3 separate regions of the Homo sapiens genome follow, and all the other regions are linked to region 1. Evidence: fine-mapped expression QTL. A gene starts in region 1. Each other region holds a variant in brackets. All regions are shown on one strand. Distances are between the middles of the regions.

Region 1 (8,190 bases):
CTCAGCAGACGTTCAATGCAGATAAGCTGTTCCTGGTGGGAAAAGATGCCCCCAAAACTTGAATCAGCAAGGAGGTAACAGTATGACTGGTTTTCTTTTGATAGACCTACTCACACACCTTTTTACTAAGACAATCTTCCCAAACCACCTGTACTTAGAAGAACTTGGAAACTTTTTATAACAAAGCGAAGTCCACATCTAAGTATCTCCATGAAATGATGGGCTAAAGATCTGCCAATCAGGGCATGGTAAATGGAAATGATATACCATCACTATTAATTTAAGGTATGTTTCAAAAAAAAACTTTTTAAAATTTGTTTTGCCATCTCTGTCTTATTTCAATAATATAAACACACGTGCTTTAAATCCTGGCTTTAGTTCTGCTACTCTTCCCATTAGGTTTTAAGCTCATCAACCATCAACTGTCCTAGTATAGGTGTCTTCTAGAACCTACCCCATTGAGTCAAGTGGAGAATACTTATATTCGTTCACAGAGACTATGACTCTGGAGCTGTACTTAAACTATGAGTACGGTCAACTGCAGGCACTGACAAAGAAGCTGAAGAGTCTGGATCCTGCTGGACAGTTAGGAAAAGGCAGGCAATACCTCTCCCACCGCTCACCTGCTGTATTCCCTGCCTAGGTATACTTTTTTTCTAACCTTTAAATCCAATTGAATTTGTGATTCCAATTCTTAAACAATAACAAATGTGGACTATTCCTGAAACTTCATAAATAAAATCAGGTGGACATTTACAGTACTGAGTAGGCCTATACAAGACACTGTGCACTTCTATAGCACCCTTTATTTCACAAACCCAAAGAACTGTCAAAGTTGCCCCAACATAAAGTATCAGTGATGGAACTTCTCTCATTTTTACATGTACAACACTCTATTCACCCTGTTTCTGCCATTATAAGCATAGCTATTCATGAAAATAAACTAAAAGGGCTGAGACCAACATTCAATCATTAACTAAATTTCAACTTCATAATTCAACCCAAAAACTATCCAGTGCCAAGTGGTTTAAAAAATTATAGAACAGGGCTGGGCACATTGGCTCACACCTGTAATCCCAACATTTGGGAGGCCAAGGCAGGAGGATCACTTGAGCCAAGGAGTTCGAGACCAGGCTGGGCAACATAGTGAAACCCTGTCTCTACAAAAAATTTAAAAATCAGTCGGGCGTGCTTGTGCACACCTGTAGTCCGAGCTACTCAGGAGGCTGAGGTGGGAGGATCGCTTGAGCCTGAGAGGCAGAGGTTGCAATGAGCCATGATTGCACTACTGCACTCCAGCCTAAAAGACAGACTTAAACTCTGTCAAAAAAAAAAAAAAAAAAAATTACAGAACAAAGCCAAACACAGTGGCTCAGGCCTATAGTTCCTGCAACTTAGGAGGCAAGAAGATCATCTGAGCCCAGAAGTTCGAGTCCAGGCTGGGCAAGACAGTGAGGTTCTTTCTTTAAAAAAAATAAATTACAGGACAAAATATACAAAGACGCAAACATTCCATTAAGCAAAAGAGTTAATATGGAATAACTTCTCACTTCTAAGTTCTTATGAGTACTTATAGGTAATAAGTCAAAATTATTAAAAAGTCCCACTCAATAGTTATATTTAATCTGCACCAAGAATAACTTCCAAAAATGGATTAAAATAACATGTCAAAAATAACTCATTTACTTGGGTGTTATTTTGGAACTCTTTCTAGAAAACTGACCCCAAAATTTAGATGTCAGAAGAATGTATTTCCCAAGTCAAGTTTTTGAAACTACAGATCTGAGGAAGACCATCATGAACAGGAGAGAAAATATGGATTGCAGTTAAGCATGCCATATGGGTACAAGCCAGAATGCCTGGGTCAGAATCCTGGTCCTACCACTCAATAGCTATCTAACCTTAGTACCACAGTTACTTCATCTGCAAAACGGGAATAATAAAAATACCTACTCCATACAGTTGTTGTGAGGATTAAAGCCAGGCAAGTAAGTAATATATGTAAAGGATTTAGCAGGAAGCAGCATTATATAAAGTATTTACTTATCATCATTATCATATGACTAGATCACTTAAATCATCCACAGAAACGCCTTTTCCTATTTCAGTCTTCCTTAATTGGTCTAGCAGCACTTAATCCCTCCCTCCTTGGCTTCCTCATAAAACACATTTTCTATGGTATTTATTTGGGTAGGTATATTTCTCTCCCACTGGATCACATCTCCTTGAAGACAGCAACCACAGTTCGTCCGAGTGTACAGAGTAGCAACCACAGTTCGTCCGAGTGTACAGAGCAGCAAACACTGTTCACTGTTGCCTTTCATTTCTCTCCCTCTAAAGATTCTGAACAATAATACCCTGTCAATTAGCAAACTTTTACCTGGAGACAGAAGGCTTATGCAACCAGTGCACTTAAGTACTGGTCATACCTTGCTAAAGACTTTCTTAAGACTTAAACAAAAATTTTGGGGGGAAGAAGAGGAGGATATGCTTCATGTTTATAAACTAACCAAAGACAGATTTTTAATTTTTTAAAAAAGTTATGTCTTAAAAGCTTGCTTTCATTATTTCATTCAAAAAGACCATGGTGCTTTTAATATAAAAATACAGAAGCATAATTTCTGCATATGTCAAGTCTAACCTAATCATAACTTGCCAATCTGCTGATTTTAATGTAATCCTAAGGATGCTAGACAACAATATGCTTGCTTGATTCACCTGACACTATTTACATAAAATAAAAGCATTTTAACAATACATCGAGATGCAAATCTTTCTGGCTCTGATTTGTGCCCTTTCTCCCTCTTAACAAAAAGTGCCACACACACACAAAAGAGCCTCCAACTTATCCTGGATCACTGGGGAGGCACTTTCTAAGGTGCGTTATCCAATTTCACTAACACAATGATGCTCTCCTTACTTTAAGAGAACAGAACTTTTCTGAAAGCAAACAGCTGAACTGAGTCCATTGCTTTGTTATCATTTTTTAGGAAGTCCAATTTCTCCTTTGTTCTTACAGTGTCCTACCTTTAGAAATCAAGTTTTCAGCATAAAAACTAACAAGGACATCTATTTGTTGGCACAAATCATCTCAGTCTCCATTCTTTGACTTATTTTAAAACAAACTCAAGAGCAAATGGCTAGAGAAAAACTGCTTCTATTTAATGTGTGTTTTCTAAGTCTAATTTTTTCATTCCTAGTGGCAAGGCCTTTCAAAAGAGTACAAAAACTACACCCAACTTTGCTTCTCATTCTAAACACATCACAACCAAATGGGAAACATTATCAGCCATCTTAACAAGGAGAAAACAAAGCTAAGTGAGGTCAAACCAAAACATTTTTTAATTCATTGTACCTACCTATTTTGAGATCAGGATTTTTCAGATGGAAGTAGTTTGATGAACTTATGCAATAAAATTATGTAATATCATAATTTAACATAATATTTTAGACTAACTTCTCTCTCCTCAAATAGTCACAAGGGTGGCTAATTCACATACAATACCTCTCAGCCACTGGGGAGAGAGTATAATAAACTTAATTGTTTTACATATCCTGAGGCACAGAGAGAAAGGCCAATCAAATTCAAAGAGGTTTACAGTACCTTATATACATATATGATTGAGACAAAGAACTTTCAAGAATCTGTACTGAGGAAGCAAAAATGGGCTTAAGTACAATAGGCCCTGCCTTAAAGTAGAGAGACCGGTCAAACGTAAGCCCCAGCGCCAAAAAAGACAAGGTCTCACTCATCAATCCCCATCTTACAATCAAGAGGCAGAACTTAAATCACTTAAAGCTGTTTTTTCAGATTTGAGCAGTAAAATAAGCTAATAGGCCATTTCCGATTAAGTGGCTTCTCTCAAAACTTATCACAAGTTATGTGAAATGGGTAAAAGTGTTGGTTCTGCATTTTATCAAGTGAGAAACAATAGCATCCTACTTTTGGACAAGCCACTACTTCCAGAGCCACTAGCCCTCCCCCCACCTCCCACTTCTTTTTATATCATTCCTCCAAACTTAGAACCCGAAAAGCTATTCCACAAAACAAAAGCAGCACCAGTAAAAGGGGAGGCCACTGGTTTTGAAAATAAAGTTTGTTCTTTTGCTGTCAACCTGGCAACTTTTTAAAGGTGAAACGTGCCCTACTCAATCGGTTATACTCTTTTCTACTCCCACACCAAATAACCACTCGTTCGACCTCGATACTAAAGGTGAAAAAAGGAGTGGGAGAAATGATTTTGAAAGGAAGGGGCTACGGGTGCAATGGTAAAGACAGATTCTAAGACTGGTTTTGAGCACTCCGTGGCTTCTAGGAGCTGGGAGGCTTTCCTGAGTCTGTCTTGAGAAATGTTTGGCAATCTGACGCATCAGTTTTTAGGAACGGTACACAAACAGCCCCCACAATTGAAGAGCCATGCTTCGGATCCTGGCTCTGGGTGACATCGGCTGGAGGGCACGGGACGGGAGCGCTGGGGCTACCCGGAGAGGATCCGCGACATTTGTTATTGTTTGTGAAGCCCAGGCGGGGACCCGGAGCGGAGTGCTCGGGGGCCGGGGAGTGGAAGGAGAAAGGAGCAGAGGACAAAGATTCCTCCCCGGGTGCGAGGCTCCCTCTCTGGACACATGGGGCCAGTATCACCCCGGGGAATAAGAGGGCCAAGGCCGTCGCCGCAGGTTCCCCGGAGACATTTCCAGCCCCAGAATTAGCCCGGCTTTCCCTGGACACCCAAAGACACCTAAAATCTCCTCCTGCTCCTGCTCGCAGAGTTGGGGCTGGCGCGGCGAGCTCGGGCCCTCAGCCGAGCGCTACATCCGCGAACTCACCTGCCTCCGGTCGCGCCCGCGGCCGGCTCAGCCTCCGCACGGACCGCAGCCGGCCGGGCGCCCGTCAGCTCCCTTCTCCCCGCTCCGCCCTCGCCCCGCCCCCGGGAGGTGGGACCCGCGGCCTCGCCGGAATCTCAGGGCGGCCTCCCTGAACTCTCGCGAGCCTTGCCTCCTCGGCTTCTCGGTGGCTGGGTCGGTCCGACTCGCCCTGACGTCATACGCACCACAGCCGGAAGTAGCCTTCTGTCGTCAACGCCCGTCTTCCCGGCCCCACCCATCTCCGCCTGGTGAAGGCCAGACTGGTTTTGAGGGAGTTGACTGAACTGTCGCCACTTCCCCTCTCACCAGCCTCACCTCACTGCCGTTTTTACGCCAAACCTGTTCAGGCCTCTCTTGAGAGTGGCCTAATGTGTTGCGACATTAGTCACATTCTAAATGTCATCCGAATTTTTCAAACAGTGCAATGCAAAGAATGTTAGAAATGGAAAGAGAGAATTCACGCATTTTTCAGATTGGGAAACAGTTGTCAACAAAGATGGATCAGCTAAGTTGCTCAGTCGGTAGCTGTGGGGACTCGAAGCCACCCAGGTTCCTTGACGCTTCCATTTCACCATGAGGGGACTCCAGAGACTGGAGAGGAACCAGGATTTGTAAATGCCACAAAAAATACATTAAAAACCTGTTTGAGTTTTCTTGGAAAATCTAAAATAACTACAGTACTGGCCTGCTTTATCAGTAGGATCTGAGAATTGTGCAGAAGAGCACTCCCCTATAGGATGACCCAAAAGGGACAACTTTGGGAAGGTTGATGCAATTTGCGTCTGGGGACAAAACTGGCCTTTGGGAAAGCCAAATGAGAGAATGACTCCCAATTATTGTTGGCAAGTTTATCCTCAATATGAGTATTGGAGGTCTTATAAAATATTCTTAGCTTTTAGCTTACTGAGACAACGTATGAAGCTGGTACTGTGCTTGCAAAAACTATCACTTAGAAATGCCACCTGTCATCTTTAGGTTTCCCAAGAGCAGGTGACACGAGCAAAACACCTAGGAAAGAAGCATTACCTCATTTCTCTTTCTTACACTGTGCTTTTTCATACATAGCTTAGTAGTGGGAAAAGCTCTAGTTTGGTAATTAGTGTATTTTTGGGGAGATCAGCTCCACTTATATGGTCATTTTGAAACTCAAATGACAGTTGTCATATACAAGCATAGGAGGTTTAATTGTGATCAGACAAGCTTGACAGGCCTATACACCCTTCTCCCTGTACTGCACGCATACACATACCATTCAAATGCTACGATAAGATTGAGAACAGTGTATGGTTTGTTCCACAGCAAATTTATGTCTTCAAATGTGCCATACTAGAGTAATATGAACTAGTATAGAGTAGCAGTCTAGGTTAATATGGGATAGCCTAAGACTTTGACCTCTAGTTCCTAAATTCTCCTAAATTGAGACCATTGTAAACAAATTTCCCTGGGAAGTTGTTGAAAGTACCTCAACTGAAACAAATTAGAGCTATGAACCAGAATTTTGGTGGTCTATGGACCCCTTTTCAAAACAGTGTTCTTAAATGCATAAACTACCTAGGGTTACAAAGGAAATTGATAATGTTAACATACAGTTACCAAAATACTAAAAAGTGAGTTTGTAATATAATTATGTGGTAAGTAGTAGTAGCATCTAAGATGGCTGCCAATGATCCACGCCTTCTAGTATTCCTGCCTTCTGTAATTCCCTTCTCTAGTAACTTAGTTCTTAAAAAGGAAATATAGCAAAAGTGATTAGGATATCATTTCCGTGATTAGGTTACAAAAATATTCTGGGCTCCATCTTGCTTGTCCTTGCTCTCTCACTTGCTCGCTTTCATGGAAGCCAGCTGCTGTCTTGTGACCTGCCTTACAGAGAAGCCCACATGGCAAGGAACTGAGAGAGATCCAGTCAACAGCCACCAAGGAATTCAGGCCCCCAGTCCAACAACCTGTGATGAACTGAATACTGCCAATAATCATGTAAGTAAGCTTGGAAGTAGATTCTTTCCCAGTTGAGCCTTGAGATGACTGCAGCCCCACCTGACACCTAGACTGCAGCCTTGTAAAACCAGATACTGAGCCAGCAGGCCCAACTAGCCAAGCCCAGATTTCTGGCCCACAGAAACTGTGAGACAATAAATATTTGTGGTTTTAAGCCACTAACTTTTGGGATACTATGTTACACTGCCATAGATAACTAAAATAGTTATATATTTGCCTCTTTATTAATGCATTAAATAATAAGATCAAGACCTACAGTAATTTTGTAGTAATGATACACAGAAACAATATTTTGAGATATCTACAACAACTTTAATGGGGTAGAAAATATGTGTGATTCCTATTGAGGAAAAGTCACAGGTATTGCTAATATTCCTGTGGTTTGCTGCCTACATTCATGATGGAAGAAATGCTAATTTTCAGTTTGAGTTTAGTGAAAAAATTACATAATATGTAATATATATAACTATATAACTATACATAGTCATATATGTAATATATAACTATATGACTATACATAGTCATATATGTAATATATATAACTATATGACTATACATAGTCATATATGTAATATATATAACTATACATAGTCATATATGTAATATATATAACTATACAGAGTCATATATGTAATATATATAACTATACAGAGTCATATATGTAATATATATAACTATACAGAGTCATATATGTAATATATATAACTATACAGAGTCATATATGTAATATATAACTATACAGAGTCATATATGTAATATATATAACTATACAGAGTCATATATGTAATATATATAACTATACAGAGTCATATATGTAATATATATAACTATACAGAGTCATATATGTAATATATATAACTATACAGAGTCATATATGTAATATATATAACTATACAGAGTCATATATGTAATATATATAACTATACAGAGTCATATATGTAATATATATAACTATACAGAGTCATATATGTAATATATAACTATACAGAGTCATATATGTAATATATATAACTATACAGAGTCATATATGTAATATATATAACTATACAGAGTCATATATGTAATATATATAACTATACAGAGTCATATATGTAATATATATAACTATACAGAGTCATATATGTAATATATATAACTATACAGAGTCATATATGTAATATATATAACTATACAGAGTCATATATGTAATATATATAACTATACAGAGTCATATATGTAATATATATAACTATACAGAGTCATATATGTAATATATATAACTATACATAGTCATATATGTAATATATATAACTATACAGTCATATATGTAATATATATAACTATACA
Region 2 (8,190 bases), 68 kb before region 1:
AGTGAGTCAGATAATATGTTATAGACTACTATTTTTCAGTCTATTTACTTTCCTGAGGGAATGCTGAATTAGTTTTCCTTTCATCACTTAGTTGAACAAATATTTATAGAGTGTCCATATGTGCCAGGCATTTTATAAGAATATATCATTTCTGCCCCCACAAGAAGCTCAGTTAAGTTATTTATATATATAGCCTTCAGTCTATTTCAAAAAGAATGAAAAAGTTGAACCTAGAAGACCTGGCTTCCCCACTCACTACTAATGTGTTCTTGGGCAAATTATTCAATTTCTCTGAGGCTCAGCTTCTGCTTACATAAAACTAGAATAATAATACCTGCCCTAATAGAGTTGATATGAAGATGAAACAATAAACGGCATGTGTTTTGTAAACTACAAACTACAAAAATAAGCATGAGGTATTTTCATTATAAATGTAATTCCAGGGTACTGCTTATCCTTTAGGAAGCTATGCAGTTTTTAATTCTTAATTCATATAAAATCTTACAAAAATGATTTCTACAAGGCAGTAATTCTCAACCAGGGGTAGTACTCTTGGGGCCATGGCAAAATGTAGGACCACAGATTTTGTCATCTCAGTGACATAACTGGCATTTACAGGGCAGGGGATCCAGGTGCTAAAGAAATTTCCTGCCCCAAACACTGAGTCCTCTCTACTTCTCCCTTGGGAAACACTCGATCTAAGGCTTGGCAACTACTGGCCATGAGAATAATAAAACACACACCTGAGTAATCACCCATGAATATTTTGTAAATAGGGGGGTACAGAATTCCCCCACCATAATTTTGAGCAGTATTCAGTTTTTCCCCTTTAAAAATAGGGAATATTGCAATTATTCTCAATTGCAAAACCTGATCTAAAATGGACACATTTTAAAAGTAGAACAAAGTTTTTCTCCTTAATGTGTAACTCAATACATTTAAAAATACTGAAATGTTTTACAAGTTTTTGCAGTTACTTAGGTTAATGAGATAATAAGCTCAATAATGCAAAGGTCATTTTATTTGGTTTTAGAGGGTATTAGCCTATTATTTTTCAGTCTGTTTACTTTCCTGAGGGAATGCTGAATTAGTTTTCCTTTCATCATTTGGTTGAACAAGTATTTATAGAGTGTCCGTATGTGCCAGGCATTTTATAAGAAATGAGAAAAAGAAAATCCTAAGGCACATTCTTAACCTGTAGACTGTTGATGGACCATGTTAACAGGACAAAGGGAAAGAGGAGAAAGGGGAAGCAATTCTTCTATTTGCTCAGTTATAGAAAGGAAATAGTATGGGGTTAAAAATAATGTAATTCTATATTAAAGGAGTAATTAAATTTATCTGTGGCAAAGCCAGCTTTTTCAAATTTTATCTGTTTTATTGTAACACTGTTTACATCCCAAACTTCCTGTTTACTTTGTCTATAAAGAAGTTTTTAGAAACTCACAACCACCTTACTTGCTGATTGATATTTGTTGTATCAGGATTTGTAACACAGTTATGAAAAATGGAAAAATGGAAATCACAAGGCATTCATTACAATTGCATTCACCTCAGTGAGTTTTATTTAAAGTGCTAATTACTAGTAAACAGCTTACTTGTAGGTATGCTCAGTAAACTACTCTAAAGTTACAAAGTAAAAACCAACACTTTGCTTTACAGGCAAGGAAACTTAACAGAGAAACTAAGAAAACTGTGTGATCCCAGAGCAAGCGCTACCATTGTTATGAAGTAAATACTAATTATTATAAAGATAAAAATAATCAAGTTAAAACCAGGTAAGATTTTAGAACCAAGGCATAAAATTCTCTTAAAAACTGGTTGACTCACCAGTTGTCTCCTGTTCTTCTTCCAAGTTTCTGCTTTCCTCTTTGAGTTCATGTTCTGAAATGCTAATTTCAACAATATGGAATTGTAATCACGAGGGAAAAATGCTCTCCACAAAAAGAAAATACATATACATCTAAAACACAGTGGATTAAGGAGTGGGGAAAGGGAAAGAACCTTCTGTTCTCTACAGTATCTTAACCAGGGGAAAGAAGAAAAACAACAACCAAACTTACAGAAGTCACTTGGTGGGTTGTGTGTGAGATTTCTATAAAATTCAGTCCTGTGAGCTTTCTTTAATCCCGTACATAAACCAAAATCAGATAATTTTACATGACCCTAAAAAAAAATCCAGTAAAATTAGATCATATTAACTTTGAAAACAAAAAGCCTTGTTATAAACTCCTCTATTAAATGGCAATTATAATAAAAATTCTTAGCTTGGGATTTATACACGTAAAATGTAAAATTTTAAGTATCTGATGATGATTTTTAAAAGTAGAAAATGGAGGGAGATAAAAAGAGAGCCATATTCCCTGTTGTCATTTAATTCCCAAGTCCTCTCCTAGTACCTTATCATATAATGTTGTTTAGCAATATTCTAAATTGCAGTTGCTGATTTCCATTCACAAAATCAGCCCTACTGCTCTAAAAAATAATCAACAGCCTAGTAATTCACCAGTTTATTCACATGCCTTGGCATCCAATAAAAGGTTGTCTGGCTTAATATCCCGATGGATGAAACCCAACTGGTGGATCGCATCTATTGCCAGAACAGTCTCTGAAATGTAGAACTGTGTTTCCTCTTCTGTCAAGGTGTCTTTCTTCATTAGCAATGTCATCATGTCACCTAAATAAAGGATAGTCAAATATATTATTATTGAAAATGCCTCAAAGGTGGAATACCTTGTAAAAGCTTTCCTGCTTTTTTTACTTTTTTTTTTTTTTTTTTGGAGACAGAGTCTCACTCTGTTGCCTGGGTTGGAGTGCAGTGGTGTGATCATGGCTCACTGCAACCTCCGCCTCCTGGGTTCAAACAGTTTTCATGCCTCAGCCACCCAAGTAGCTGAGATTACAGGTGTGCACCACCACACCCAGCTAATTTTTGTATTTTTAGTAGAGATGGGGTTTTGCCATGTTGGCCAGGCTGGTCTCAAACTCCTGGTTTCAAGCTATCTGCCTGCCTTGGCCTCCCAAAGTACTGGGATTACAGGCATGAGCCACCATGCCCAGCTAGCTTTCCTGAGTTTGCATTTTATGATCTACCCAGTATATTTCTAACCACATCTTGGGACAAATAAAAGTGCTATTGCATAGCAGAAGTTTCATGACTTTTAATGGTTTTAAGGCAGAGACCATGTGAAATCAAATCACAAAAGAGCTGATAATGAAGTAATATCTACCACTCAACTTCTAGAATTAACTGCTGAGGAAAATGTCAAACTGCAAAAAAATCAGAATAAGTGCACCTGGAAACGAAATATATTCTTTTAGAGTTTAGTGGGACATTATCCCACTAAAAAAGGCACCTGCAGACATTCTTTTATTTTCAAGGAATTTTAAAAGTTTTAACAGTTTTAACTGTTGTAAACACTGGTGCACTTACAACACAGAATTGACAACTGATTACATTTTTTTCATATATTTTTTGAGGCTTTAAAAAAAATAGGGAGCCAGGGGCAGTGGTTCACGCCTGTATTCCCAACACTCTGGGAGGCTGAGGTGGGTGGATCACTTGAGGTCAGGAGTTTGAGACCAGCCTGACCAACATGGTGAAACCCCGTCTCTACTAAATACAAAAAAAATTAGCTGGGCATGGTGGTGGGCACCTGTAATCCCAGCTACTCAGGAGGCTGAGACAGGAGAATCGCTTGAACCCGGGAGGCAGAGGTTGTAGTGAGCCAAGATCACACCACTGCACTCCAGCCTAGGCAACAGAGCGAGACTTCATCTCAAAAAATAAAAATTAAAACAAAACAAAACAAAACCCAGAATTCTTTGCCCTCCATTGCCATTCTTTTCCCCTTGCCCTCTTTGCTGAGCAATGATTAAACCTCTTTCCTTTATAAATTACACAGTCTCAGGTATTTTTTTTTTTTTTTTT[TG/G]AGACGTAGTCTCGCTGTTTTCGCCCAGGCCGGACTGCAGTGGCGCTATCTCGGCTCACTGCAAGCTCCGCCTCCCGGGTTCACACCATTCTCCTGCCTCAGCCTCCCAAGTAGCTGGGACTACAGGCGCCCGCCACTGCGCCCAGCTAATTTTTTTTATTTTTAGTAGAGACGGGGTTTCACCTTGTTAGCCAGGATGGTCTTGATCTCCTGACCTCGTGATCCATCCGCCTCGGCCTCCCAAAGTGCTGGGATTACAGGCGTGAGCCACTGCGCCCATCCAGTCTCAGGTATTTTTTGTAACAACATAAAATAAACTAACACAACTTATAACAACCTAATTATATACAGTGAACCCAGAACGGTAATATTTAAAATGTGCTAACTTTATAATTCCTTCAAAACAATCTGTTTTGTGGTAAAAATGAGCATCAATATGGTAGTAAATATTTTTAAACTGTGACTATGTAAAGCCTCAGAGCAAAGAATATAAAAGTAAACCTCACCAATAAAATTATTGTTGCATATAAAGATGTGCTTGTATCAGTCTGTCATTGATACAATGTTTGCTTTTACCTCCAGGGAGAAATTCCATGATTAGATAAAGATTCCTCTTATCCTGAAAACTGTAAAACATCTTCACCACCCAGGCACCATCTGCTTCTACCAAAATATCTCTTTCTGCTCGGATATGGGCCACCTAGATGAATATATTTTTGAAAAAAATAATTGTAAATACATCACACATTTGTTAAACTCATCTCTTACACTTATCCATCCATAACAGTTAATGAAGGAAAGATGGAGTTTCAGAAGATTTGATACATGTATGAATGTTCGTATTCTCATCAAATATGGAGAACCTCAAGAAATAGTTTATTTTAGCTTATATCTTTAGGTCTGAAAAGGTGAGGTCAACAGGTATATTACGTGAAGCTGAGGCCTCTGAGGTAGAGCAAGAATCAGTCTAACAACTTTTTAACCAGAATCTCTACCCAGCCTAGGATCCTGGCTTTGTCACATAAATTTAGGGCACTAGTGTGATTTTTAAAGTTAAAAGTAGTAAGCAGGGCCGGGCACAGTGGCTCACGCCTGTAATCCCAGCACTTTGGGAGGCCAGGGCAGGTGGATCACGAGGTCAGGAGATTGAGACCATCCTGGCTAAAACGGTGAAACCCCGTCTCTACTAAACATACAAAAAATTAGCCAGGCATGGTGGCACACACCAGTAGTCCCGGCTACTCAGGAGGCTGAGGCAGGAGAATCGCTTGAACCCGGGAGGCGGAGGTTGCAGTGAGCCGAGATTGCGTCACTGCACTCCAGCTTGGTGACAGAACGAGACTCCATCTCAAAAAAAAAAAGAGTAAGCAATGCCCTGTAAATTGGTACAGCAAACCTAAGCTTGGCTAAAAATAGCAAACTATTTTTAATTGTTAAACAAAGGTCCCAGCTTGATCATTATTTGGTGTTTTTTAAAGAAATAGTAACAATTATAGTAACTTTATGTTATATTATTGTTATAATATAAAACCTCTACCATATCTATAAATGTTAGCTAAAGCAAATTTGTGTAACTTTTGGGGATTTTGCCACTGATTTCTCGGACACATAATTACTAGAGATACTATCATGTGAAAATGTTATAGACTGGAAAATTTTATAAACTGGATAATTTATGGGGTTGGTATAACTGGTCAGTTTGCAGATGCTTTTGCATTAATATATTTATACACTTTTTCCAAAGATTAATAAGATTTGATTTATGCTTTTGCTATTTTCATTGTGCAACGTTAAAAACTCTGGTCCAAAGCACATGAGAACATACATTTGTAAACCTTTCTATGATAATAAAATATGATCTGCTTAAAGTGTCATATTTGGAATTACTCCTAGTGCAGTAAATATTCTGAGATCAAAGCGTAAGAGTTGAGGAGTAAGAACTTGTCTTCTGGCATGAAAATACTTTATAATTTCTATGGATCTGTTTCATTAAGTGAAAAGTGGTAGCAAGAGTGCCTACCTATTACCTTTCATGAAGCAATTTAAGGTGGTAAGGAAAAGCCCTAAACTTTGGTGTTGCATCTGGTGTGTAAGGAAAACAACTACAACATAAACATGGCTTGATTATTTTTAAATGGTTTAAAGCCAAATTACAGGATCCCTTTCCAAAACAGGATCCAAAGGTTGGAAAGTATGACCTATAGTAATCTGGTAGAACAACAGTGAGGAGATCAGTTGGTATTTAATTTTGTGGGGGTGGTTTGCATTAAAATAAATGTGATAAAAGTTAAAATATTGATGTATTAGAATTGAGTAGAAAAAAGCTTTCTAAAACAAAATCCAGTGGTAACAAATGCAAATTAATTTATACAGGGGTAAAAAACAACCCCAAAATGCAAAGGCAACTAGACGTTAGGCTACGGAGAGATTTCCGCCCCCCACCTCCCCACAGGAAAGAGCAGTGGTCCAGAGGCTCCTTAACTTCCCACAAAATATTGTAGACCAAGGGCTGTCCAGTACAGATGTAACACAAGTCATGTATGTAATTTTTAAATTTTCTAGAAGCCACATACAGAATGAAATTATTTTTAATAATACAGTTTATGTAACCTAATATATCCGAATATTATCACCTTAGTATGTAATCAATATAAAAATCATTGAAATATTTTATTTATTTATTTATTTATTTTTGCACCAAGCCTTATTTGCTGGATATCCCAATTTGTGCCCAGTAGCCACATGTGGCTGGCTGGTATCTACACTACAGCTGGAACTAACTGCTTCCTTCTGTCCTTCCTATTATACCCTAGTAGGACTAATCCCATTATGGCTAAGTTAGATTCCTGTTGCCCTCCCTGTCTCTGAGGCTATGCATCTTTACCCACGTCCTTATTGCCATCATTATCTTTCTTTTTTCTTCCTTTTTGTGGAGAATGGGGTCTTGCTATATTCCCATCATTATCTATAGTTCTCTAATCCAACTCAGTATCTCAACCTTCCTTGCCTTCCACACCTCTTCCCTCTGGGGAATCATAGCCTGTCATCAACAAAATCCCCTATAACCCTGTCTCCTGATGGTTCCTATTACCTTCTTAACCTAACTGAAACTAGGGTGAAAAATCACCCAGCTATGCCAATGGGTTTCACTTTAAATTCATGACTGCAAATCTCAATGAGCCTTCAACTGCATTTCCTTAGCAGGTCTGCTTTCCCGCACCTGAAAATGACCATTTCACAATTTCTCTCCTTAAATATTCAAAAAGCCATCCCTCCTTTACTCGAAGCCACCCCTTGTAACTGCATTAAGGCACAGGAAACATGCAGAGAGCCCAGAATATTTACAAGGTTACAGATTTTAGAAATATGTAAAATCAGCAAATTTCCAGGAGACTAGTTTTGATTATCTGATATGTGACAGGGATTCTGGGAGCTGAGAACTGTCCTTTATTTTCATTGTAGTCAGAAAAGGAGGTATTTCAGAAGGTATGTACTGAATGTTCATGCATCTACAAAATTCATAGAGTAAAGCTTTAATCTCCAATGAGGCTGTATTTGGAGATGGACCCTTAGGGAATTAATTAAGGTTAATTAATGAGGTCATAAGGGTGGAATTAATGTCCTTATAAGAAGAGACACCAGAGAGTTCTCACAGGAGTGTGTGTCCCCGCACACACCAAGGAAAGGCCATGTGAAAACTTAGTGAGAAGGTGGCCATCTGCAAGCCAGGAAGAGAGGCCTCACCAGAAACCAAAACCTGCCCAAACTTTCATTTTTGACTTGTAGCCTCCAGAACTATGAGAAAATAAGTTTCTGTTGTTTAAGCTAACCAGCCTGTTGTGTTCTGTTATGGAAGTCTAAGCAGACATACATAGATTATAAATTTAGAAGAAACCTTAAAAGAACTGAGAAACACTAAAACAGGCTACCAAAAAATTAATAGCTTATGTAGTAAGATGTGTAAACTGCTTCTTAAAAATTCTAATATAAACACTCTTAACACTGCGTCAGTGGATGCTCCTTTATATTACATGTGTTAAAGAACTCATACCTGCTCTTTTTCAAGCATATCAGACTTTCTCAATATCTTCATTGCATAGATATGGCCTGTATCTTTCTTCTGGACCAACCGCACCTAAAAGATAAAAAACATATATTATAAAACAGTCACTACTATTTGTTCAGGAAAGAAAAGTAACTTCCCTTAAAGAAAGCAGGAATTTGCCAGTGTTGGTATTTCAGGAATTTTATATATATA
Region 3 (8,190 bases), 23 kb after region 1:
AGGGGCTGTTTGTTCAGGCAGGAAACAGCTCACAGAAACTCAACCCGCCTTTGGGAGTGGTTGCCTTGGGAGACCTTTCAATCCCCTCGGAATGGGGCCTCTGGCTGGCTGACCTCTACTCTTTCCACAAGAACAGTGTCTGCATTTGAGTGGAAAGAACATGTGTACAAGTGAGGACTTGCCCCACTTCAAGATGAGAATTTCTGATCCATAGACAGTCTGCTTTGGGAGTTGATGAAATCTGAAGTGTGGCCTTTTATAGGAAGCTTTTTCAAGATTTTAGGTTTCACTTTGAGAGAAACATGATATAGGAGGAAACTGGGCTGGATCAAACAGTCACCATCTGTATTTGCATTTAACATACAGAAATCATAAAATTTTAAGGCTGGAGAAGACTTGACCAGATGACAATCTGGTCCTTCTCCCTTCTTCCTATACGCGAGGAAGATCTGAAGGAATTAAGTCATGAATAACCTCAGTCACCATCTATTGAGTAACTGAGATTAAACTCAAGTGTACTGACATCCAGGAAGTAATTCAGTTCCTCTTACTCCACTTGTAACCTGAAAGGCATTTGGGAGAAACTATGTAAGACTTGGAGAAAATATAGAGCTCGGGCCTGTAATCCCAGCACTTTGGGAGGCCGAGGCGGGTGGATCACCAGAGGTCAGGAGTTCGAGACCAGCGTGGCCAATATGGTGAAACCCCATCTCTACTAAAAATACAAAAAATTAGCTGGAAGTAGTGGCAGGCACCTGTAATCCTAGCTACTTGGGAGGCTGAGGCAGGAGAATCACTTGAACCTGGGAGGCAGAGGTTGCAGTGAGCCCAGCTCATGCCATTGCACTCCAGCCTGGGCAACAAGAGCAAAACTCTGTCTCAAAAAAAAAAAAAAAAAAAAAAAAGAAAATATGTTATTTTCTTTGTATGATTATTACCTATAAAAATACAAAAATAATTTCAAACGCTATAAAAATTTTTAAGTTTCTAAATGGTTTAACATGTGTTAAAGCCATCTTTGTCTCATAACCACCTGTAACCTATGACATGTTCAATGAGAAACCTTCCAGAAGCAACTCACACTGGGAGTTGGTCTAGACCTCTGAAGTGGAGTGTAACTGATAAGGAAAAAAGAAGCTCTAGATGTCTCTCTTGAACCCCCATTCCCACCAAAAAGGCCGGGCTTATATGTCTGGGAGTTGCCAAGGGCAAAAGAAACTTGGAGGCTTAAGACTGGCAATGGCCAGGCCAGGGCAGTCTAGCCCAGCATGTCAATTCTACTGTGGGTCCAAGGCAAGGATTCTAGATCCAGAGTACCCATGAGCTGGGGACAGAAAAAAAGGAGAGGGGACAGGAAAGTCTGGGAGCAAACAGGTAGGAACCAGACACATAGAACTGTTCCCACCTAGGAATAAGCCCATCACTCTCTAACTGTCTCAGCATGGATGGTCTATGGTCTAGGCTGTAAAGTGTATCCATCCTAAAATATGGAAATACTAACGTAAGATCAGACTTTGACAAAATAAATGCATGGGGACTACAAAGTGACTGAATGCTTAAAAGGGTGGAAGTAGGAACGGAGTGGGGAATGGAAGATGTCAGAGAAGAAAGCAAACTCTTCTTAATGGGGCAGTATTGATGAAAATGAGCCTTTGCTACTCAATGCTTTTATCTGCCTTTCACTGACTCATCACTTATACCCTTTTTTTTAGCTAATACATCTTTAATAGGCTTCATTTTTTAGAGCAGTTTTAGGTTCACAGCAAAATTGAATGGAAAGTACAGAGAGTTCCCAGATACCCCCTACCTCCCCACACATAGCCTCCCCAACTGTCAACATCTAGCACCAGAATGACATATTTGTTATAATCGATGAGCCTACATTGACACATCATTATCACTAAAAGTCCATAGTTTACACTAAGGTTCACTCTTGGTGCTGTTCATTCAATGGGTTTTGAAAAATGTATGATGACATGTGTCCACTATTATAATATTATACAAAACAGTTTCACTGCCCTGAAAATATTATGTGTTCTGCCTAGTCATCCCTACCTCCCTGCTAACCTCTGGCAAACACTGATTGTTTTACTATCTCCATAATTTTTGTATTTTTCCAGAATGTGATATAGTTGGAACCATACAGTATGTAGCCTTTCAAACTGGCTTTTTCACTCAGTGACATGGATTTAAGGTTCTTCCATATATTTTAATGCCTTAATAGCTCATTTCTTTTAGCACCGAAAAATATTCTATTGTTTGGATGTCCCACAGTTTATGTATCCATTCCTCTACTGAAGGACATCTTTGTTGTTTCCAAGTCTTGGCATTTATGAATAAAGGTGCTGTAAATAGCCATGGACAGGTTTTTGTGTGGACATAACTTTTCAACTTATTTAGGTAAATACCAAGGAAGGTAACTGCTGGATCATATGGTAAGAGTATGTTTGATTTTGTAAAAAAAACTGCCACACTATCTTGCAAAGTGGTGCAGCCACTTTGCATTTAGTAGTTTGCATTTTTCTAATGGCATATGATATTATATCGAGCATCTTTTCATATACTTGTCATCTCTGTATGGTCTTTGGTGAGGTCTCTGTTAAGGTTTTTTGCCCATTTTTTAATCAGGTTGTTCATTTTTAATTGTTGAGTTTTAAGAGTTCTTTGTATATTTTAGATAACAGTCCTTTATCACATATGTCATTTGCAAATATTTTCTTCCATCTGTGGCTTATCTTCTCATTCTCTTGCAGAGCAGAAGTTGTAAATTTTAATGAAGTTTAGCTTACCAACTTCTTATTTCATGGATCATGACTTTAGTATTGTATTTTAAAAGTCATTGCCATACCCAAGGTCATCTAGATTTTTTTCCAGGGTTATTATCTAGGAGATTTTAATAGTTTCACATTTTACATATAGGTCTATGATCCATTCTGAATTAATTTTTGTGAAGGGTGTAAAGTCTGTGTCTAGATTCAATTTTTGTTTTCCATTTGGATGTTCCATTGTTCCAGCACCTTTTGTTGAAAAGTTTCTCTTTTTCTCTATTTTATTGCCTTGTTACTTTGTCAAAGATCAGTTTTATTATATTTATGTAAATTATTTCTGGCTTCTCTATTCTGTTCCATTGATCTATCTGTCTATTCTTTCACCACTATCACACTGTCTTTGTTATGGTATAGTGTTGGTCCTCTGACTTCGTTCTTCTTCTTCAATATTGTGTTGGCTATTCTGGGTCTTTTTCCCTTCCTATAAACTTTAAAATCAGTTTGTTCATGTTCACAAAATATATTGCTGGGCTTTTTATTGAGAATGCATTAAATCTATAGATCAAGTTGGGAAGAATTGAAATCTTGACCAGATAAGTCTTCCTGTCCATGAACATGGAATATCTTTCCAATCATTTAGATCTTTTTAAATTTTTCTTATCAGAGTTTTATACTCTTCATTATCTAGAACTTCTTCATATATTATTAGATTTCTACCAATTTCATTTTGGGGAATGCTGATGTAAATGGTATTGTGGTTTTTATTTCAAATTTCATTTGTTCATTGCTGGTATATGAGAAAGCAATTGACTTTTTTTTTTTTTTTTTTT[TG/G]GAGACAGGGTCTTACTCTGTCACCCAGGCTGGAGCACAGTGGCATGGTCATGGCTCACTGCAGCCTTGACCTCCCAAGCTCAAGTGATCCTCCCACCTCAACCTCCCAAATAGCTGAGACTACAGGCACATGCCACAGTGCCCGGCTAATTTTTCTATTTTTTGTAGAGACATGGTTTCACCATGTTGCCCAGGCTGGTCTCGAACTCCTGGGCTAAAGCAGTTTACCACCTCAGCCTCCTAAAACTGCTGGGATTATAGGCGTGAGCCACTGCACTTGGTTGCAATTGACTTTTGGATGTTAACCATATCCTGCACTAGTTCCAGGAGTTCTCCTTGTTGATTCTTTCAGATTTTCTAAATATACAAATTTTAAAGTTTTGTTACACCAATTTCTTCTTTCAGTTTTTGTCACTGAAGCAGCAGAGGTAGGGGAAAGGGATTTGTGGACAGAGACAATTTTTCTTCTGATTCCCCAGGCTGAACTGAGCAGAGCTGGAATTCAGATCACAGGATACCTGGAAGGGTGGCCAGTGGAAAGGAGAGATAGTGGGGAATAAGATAATTACCCACTTTCCCGATTTTTTTTGCCTGATTCTCAGCTATTGAGTCCTACCTCCCTTTCCCCGATGCTTTCTTTGCCCAAACAGCCGTGGATGGTTGGAGATCTTCTCTCATTCTCAGGGCTCTGGACAATGCCTCCAAAATTTCTAATGCAGAACTGGCTGGTCCTCAAGTTTGTTCTTCTGCAATCCTGGCTACCCAGCTGGTCTCCAAAGTCTCTTCAGTTAAGCAATCTGGGGCTGGGGGGTGGGGAGATCTTTGCGGCTTTATCCTACCCTTCACGTCCAACCACCCAGCAAGCCTGGGCCAAGTCAAGCAGCCCCTACAAGCAATATCCTACCAATGTGTATTCAACATTGATTTGGTCAGGATATGGAGAAATGTATTATTTTTTAATCAATAAAAAGTCTAAGTAGAAACAGATTTTTAAAATAATCCACTTCTACTAGCTGAAGAACAGGAAATGTTCTAAAAAAAGTTTAATGATCAGTTCCCATTTTTCTGAAGCTCATCTTCTCACTTCAGTTTTGTTTATTCGTAATTTTAAGAACAAGAAATCATTTTGAGAGGTATATGAAAGGGTGAGTTAAACCACTCATTCTCGGGAAACAGCACTAGGCCACCTACTGTTGACTCAGAAGTTTCAACTGACCAAGAGTGCACAGGTGCATCTCAAAAATATCCATTTTAGATGCGCTGCTGCTAATAAAGTGTTGTTTTCATTTCCTTTTGAGAACTGTCAAAAGACAAAATTACAACAAATGTAGTTAAGTGATCTAATTGGCTTTTATTTGTGATGAATGGATCAGGGTACTATCTCCCATAAAAATTTAGAAAAGGTGGCTGGGCACCATGGCTCATGCCTGTAATCCCAACACTTTGGGAGGCCAAGGCAGGAGGATCACTTGATCCCAGAAGTTTGAGAACAGCCTGTGTAACAGAGAGAGACCCCCATCTCTACCCAAAATCAATCAATCAATAAAATAAAAAATTTAGAAAAGGTGATCTGATGAGCTAAGCAGAAGAGGTGGGCTTTATAGGCAGAAAAGGGGTTAAAAAAAAGCAGAAATAAGGAACAAAAAGTGAATCGGTCATTTCAAAGTTACTTTCCTTATCGGATTAAAGCAGGGGGTACTCCTTTATCATGCCAGCTAAAACTGGCCTGTTAGGGGATTTGGCTATGCTGTCTTTCCCTCTTTCTCTCTCTCCCCCTTAGTTTCTTGAAAGGTAGATGACTTAGTTTCTGTTTGGTGACATGAAACTTTAGCATGAGTGACTCCATTTTGGTTTGATCTGTAGAGGCCCAGTCCAAATCAATAGCATCGTACAAATTTTATTTAAAAGAATAGTGCTGCTGGGCGTGGTGGCTCATGCCTGTAATGCCAACAATTTGGGAGGCTGAGGCCAGTGGATCACTTGAGGTCAGGAGTTTGAGACCAGCCTGGCCAACATGCTGAAACTCCATCTCTACTAAAAAATACAAAAATTAGCCAGGCATGGTGGTGTGTGTCTGTAGTCCCAGCTACTCAGGAGGCTGAGGCATGAGAATTGCTTCAGCCTGGGAGGTGGAGGTTGCAGAGATTGCACCACTGCATTCCAGCCTGGGCGACACAACGAGACTCTGTCTCCATTAAAAAAAATAAAAAAAGGATAGTGTCTACCTCAGTGAGACTGGAGCCAGTTTTTAGCTCCACAGCTACATAAGGAGTTGATAGAAAAACTGGAGTAATGAACACTGTTTTCCAGTTCATCTCACTGGTGTGTGGAGTTGATTTGGTTTTGCCAGTGTTATTTAGCATCCTTTTAAAATCACCCCTCCCCAACCCATCTCCTCGTACAGCTGCCCACAGGCCTGGCTCAGAAATCTGTCTCAGAAACTGAGTACCACCTAGTCTAGTCACAGTTTCTTTATGAACTACTCTGCCTTGGCTCACTGACTTGAAGTTGACAACTTACTCTTGAATAATTTAACTCCTTTCTTGGAACTGACTCCTTCTTCAGACTTCTCTTAACTTTCACTTCTGCATGTGGGAAGAAAGTAAAGGTATTAGAGACACACTGTGTAACTGGCTACAGGGTACATGGACCTTATTTCCCCCTCCCTGACAGCAAGGGCTTGTACTCAGCCTGATGTCTGGGCATAATATAAACCTAGCTTGATCTCTATTCATCACAGTCTCCACCTTTACTTACTTGAGTGTGATGATTTGTTTGAGATGTTTTGCTTTACTCATGAGGGTATGGAAATACGAAAAAAAGATAGATTGACTCATACTGTAATTCTACACTGATACATTGCAGCAATATTAACATTAATTCAATTTAAAATTCCACATTCCACATGTGTATTTGGCAATGTAGTTCTGGGAGGTAATTTGGAAATACATATCAAAACCTTAACAATAGTTACATTAGTCAAGAGCCTTGATTGCCAAAGACAGAAAGCCAGTTCAGATTAGTTTAAATAAACAGGGAAATTTATTAGGTCAAATAATTGGACAAGTCTAGGGAAGCACCTTGCTTCGGTCATGGCTGAGACCAGGAACTGAAATGATGGCATCAGGCTGGGCGCAGTGGCTGACACCTCTAATCCCAGCACTTTGGAAGCCTGAAGCAGGAGGATCGCTTGAGGCCAGGAGTTCCAGACGAGCTGGGGCAACATAGTGAAACCCTATCTCTACAAAAATAAAAATAAATTAGCCAGGCATGGACGTGCACACCTGTAATCACAGCCACTGGGGAGGCTGAAGCAGGAGAATGGCTTGAACCCAAGAGTTTGAGGCTGCAGTGAACCATGAACGCGTCACTGCACTCCAGCCTGGGTGACAGTGAGACCTTGTCTCAAAAAAAAAAGAAAGAAAGAAAGAGAAAAAAGATGTCAGTAGGAATCCCCCTTTGTCACTTCATTATTTAGCTCTGCTTTCTTCCATGTTGGCATCAAGAGGGCCCTCATCAGTCCCAACCTTAAATGATTTTTGGTGCCATTTAAGAATTTCAGAAGGAAAGAGATGTTTTCATCCAAGAGTTATTATCAGACCTAGAAAATTTCCCTCTTATTGGCCCTACTTAGATCATATGCTCACTCCTGGACCAGTCACTGTGCCTGGAGTGGTAGGAGACAGGGCACTCTGATCAGTCCCAGCCATGTGATGAAACATTTTACCAGTTGTGGGAGAGGCAGATACTAAAAGGCAATGAGAGAGTGAGGTAGGAGGTCAGTTCTATCATGTGAAAATGAGAAGAAACTCTAGGCAGGCAGAAACAAGTGATATCAAAATACAATGTTCATTCTCGTCTATGAATATTTACCCTTAAGAAATAATCAGAAGTGTGAGAGAGTTATGCAGTTATTCCTCACAGAATTATGTATAATAATAAAAATTGGCTGAACATGGTGGCTCACGCCTGTAATCCCAGCATTTTAGGAGGCTGAGATGGGTGGATCACTGGGGCCCAGGAGTTCAAGACCAGCCAGGCAACATAGGGATACCCCTGCACTACAAAAAAAAAAAAAATTAAAAAATTAGTCAAGCTTCGTGGCACATGCCTGTAGTCCCAGCTACTCAGGAGGCTGAGGTGGGAGGATCACCTGAGCCAGGGAGGTTGAGGCTGCAGTGAGCCATGATCACGCCACTGCACTCCAGCCTGGGTGACAGTGAGACCTTGTCTCAAATAATACAATCTAGAAAGAATTGGAATGTTTAATAGTAAGGGATTTCTTGAATAAATTGGTACCTGGATTCAACAGAACACTATGTGGCCTTTGAAAAGTATTATAGAGGAAAACTCAGCGACATGAAAAAATGTTCAAGGTATCTTGTTAGGCACAACAACAGTATGCGAATCATGATCCCAATTTGTGTGTGTGTGTGTGTGTACATACACACACACACACACACACATATCTTTTTATATACATTTTATGCATATTATATACATTTTATCTATTTAAAACATAACATGTAAATGTTATGAAAGAGTGAAATAATATACTTTACAATGTTGATTACTTCTAGTTGTTGAAATT

Evidence for each region. PIP is the estimated chance that this variant, and not a neighbour inherited with it, causes the effect.
Region 2: its variant is fine-mapped to the expression of STK38L in whole blood (INTERVAL, PIP 0.98).
Region 3: its variant is fine-mapped to the expression of STK38L in whole blood (INTERVAL, PIP above 0.99).

The regions. Positions count from the first base shown.
Region 1 is chr12:27,240,970-27,249,159 of GRCh38, reverse strand. It overlaps STK38L (serine/threonine kinase 38 like), which reads right to left and starts at 4,874. Exons shown (of 14, transcript NM_015000.4): 1 at 4,828-4,874. RefSeq lists enhancers at 3,466-3,515, 6,104-6,163 and a silencer at 4,806-5,045.
Region 2 is chr12:27,308,991-27,317,180 of GRCh38, reverse strand. STK38L (serine/threonine kinase 38 like) reads right to left here. Exons shown (of 14, transcript NM_015000.4): 5 at 7,984-8,067; 6 at 4,509-4,632; 7 at 2,523-2,677; 8 at 2,064-2,166; 9 at 1,831-1,892. Among named protein-coding and RNA genes, the nearest start is that of BMAL2, 20 kb to the left of the region's middle. The variant TG/G (reference allele first, on the strand shown) is at 3,932.
Region 3 is chr12:27,218,399-27,226,588 of GRCh38, reverse strand. No RefSeq gene overlaps it. Among named protein-coding and RNA genes, the nearest start is that of STK38L, 22 kb to the left of the region's middle. RefSeq lists enhancers at 4,209-4,278, 5,938-6,007, 6,028-6,197, 6,338-6,387. The variant TG/G (reference allele first, on the strand shown) is at 3,599.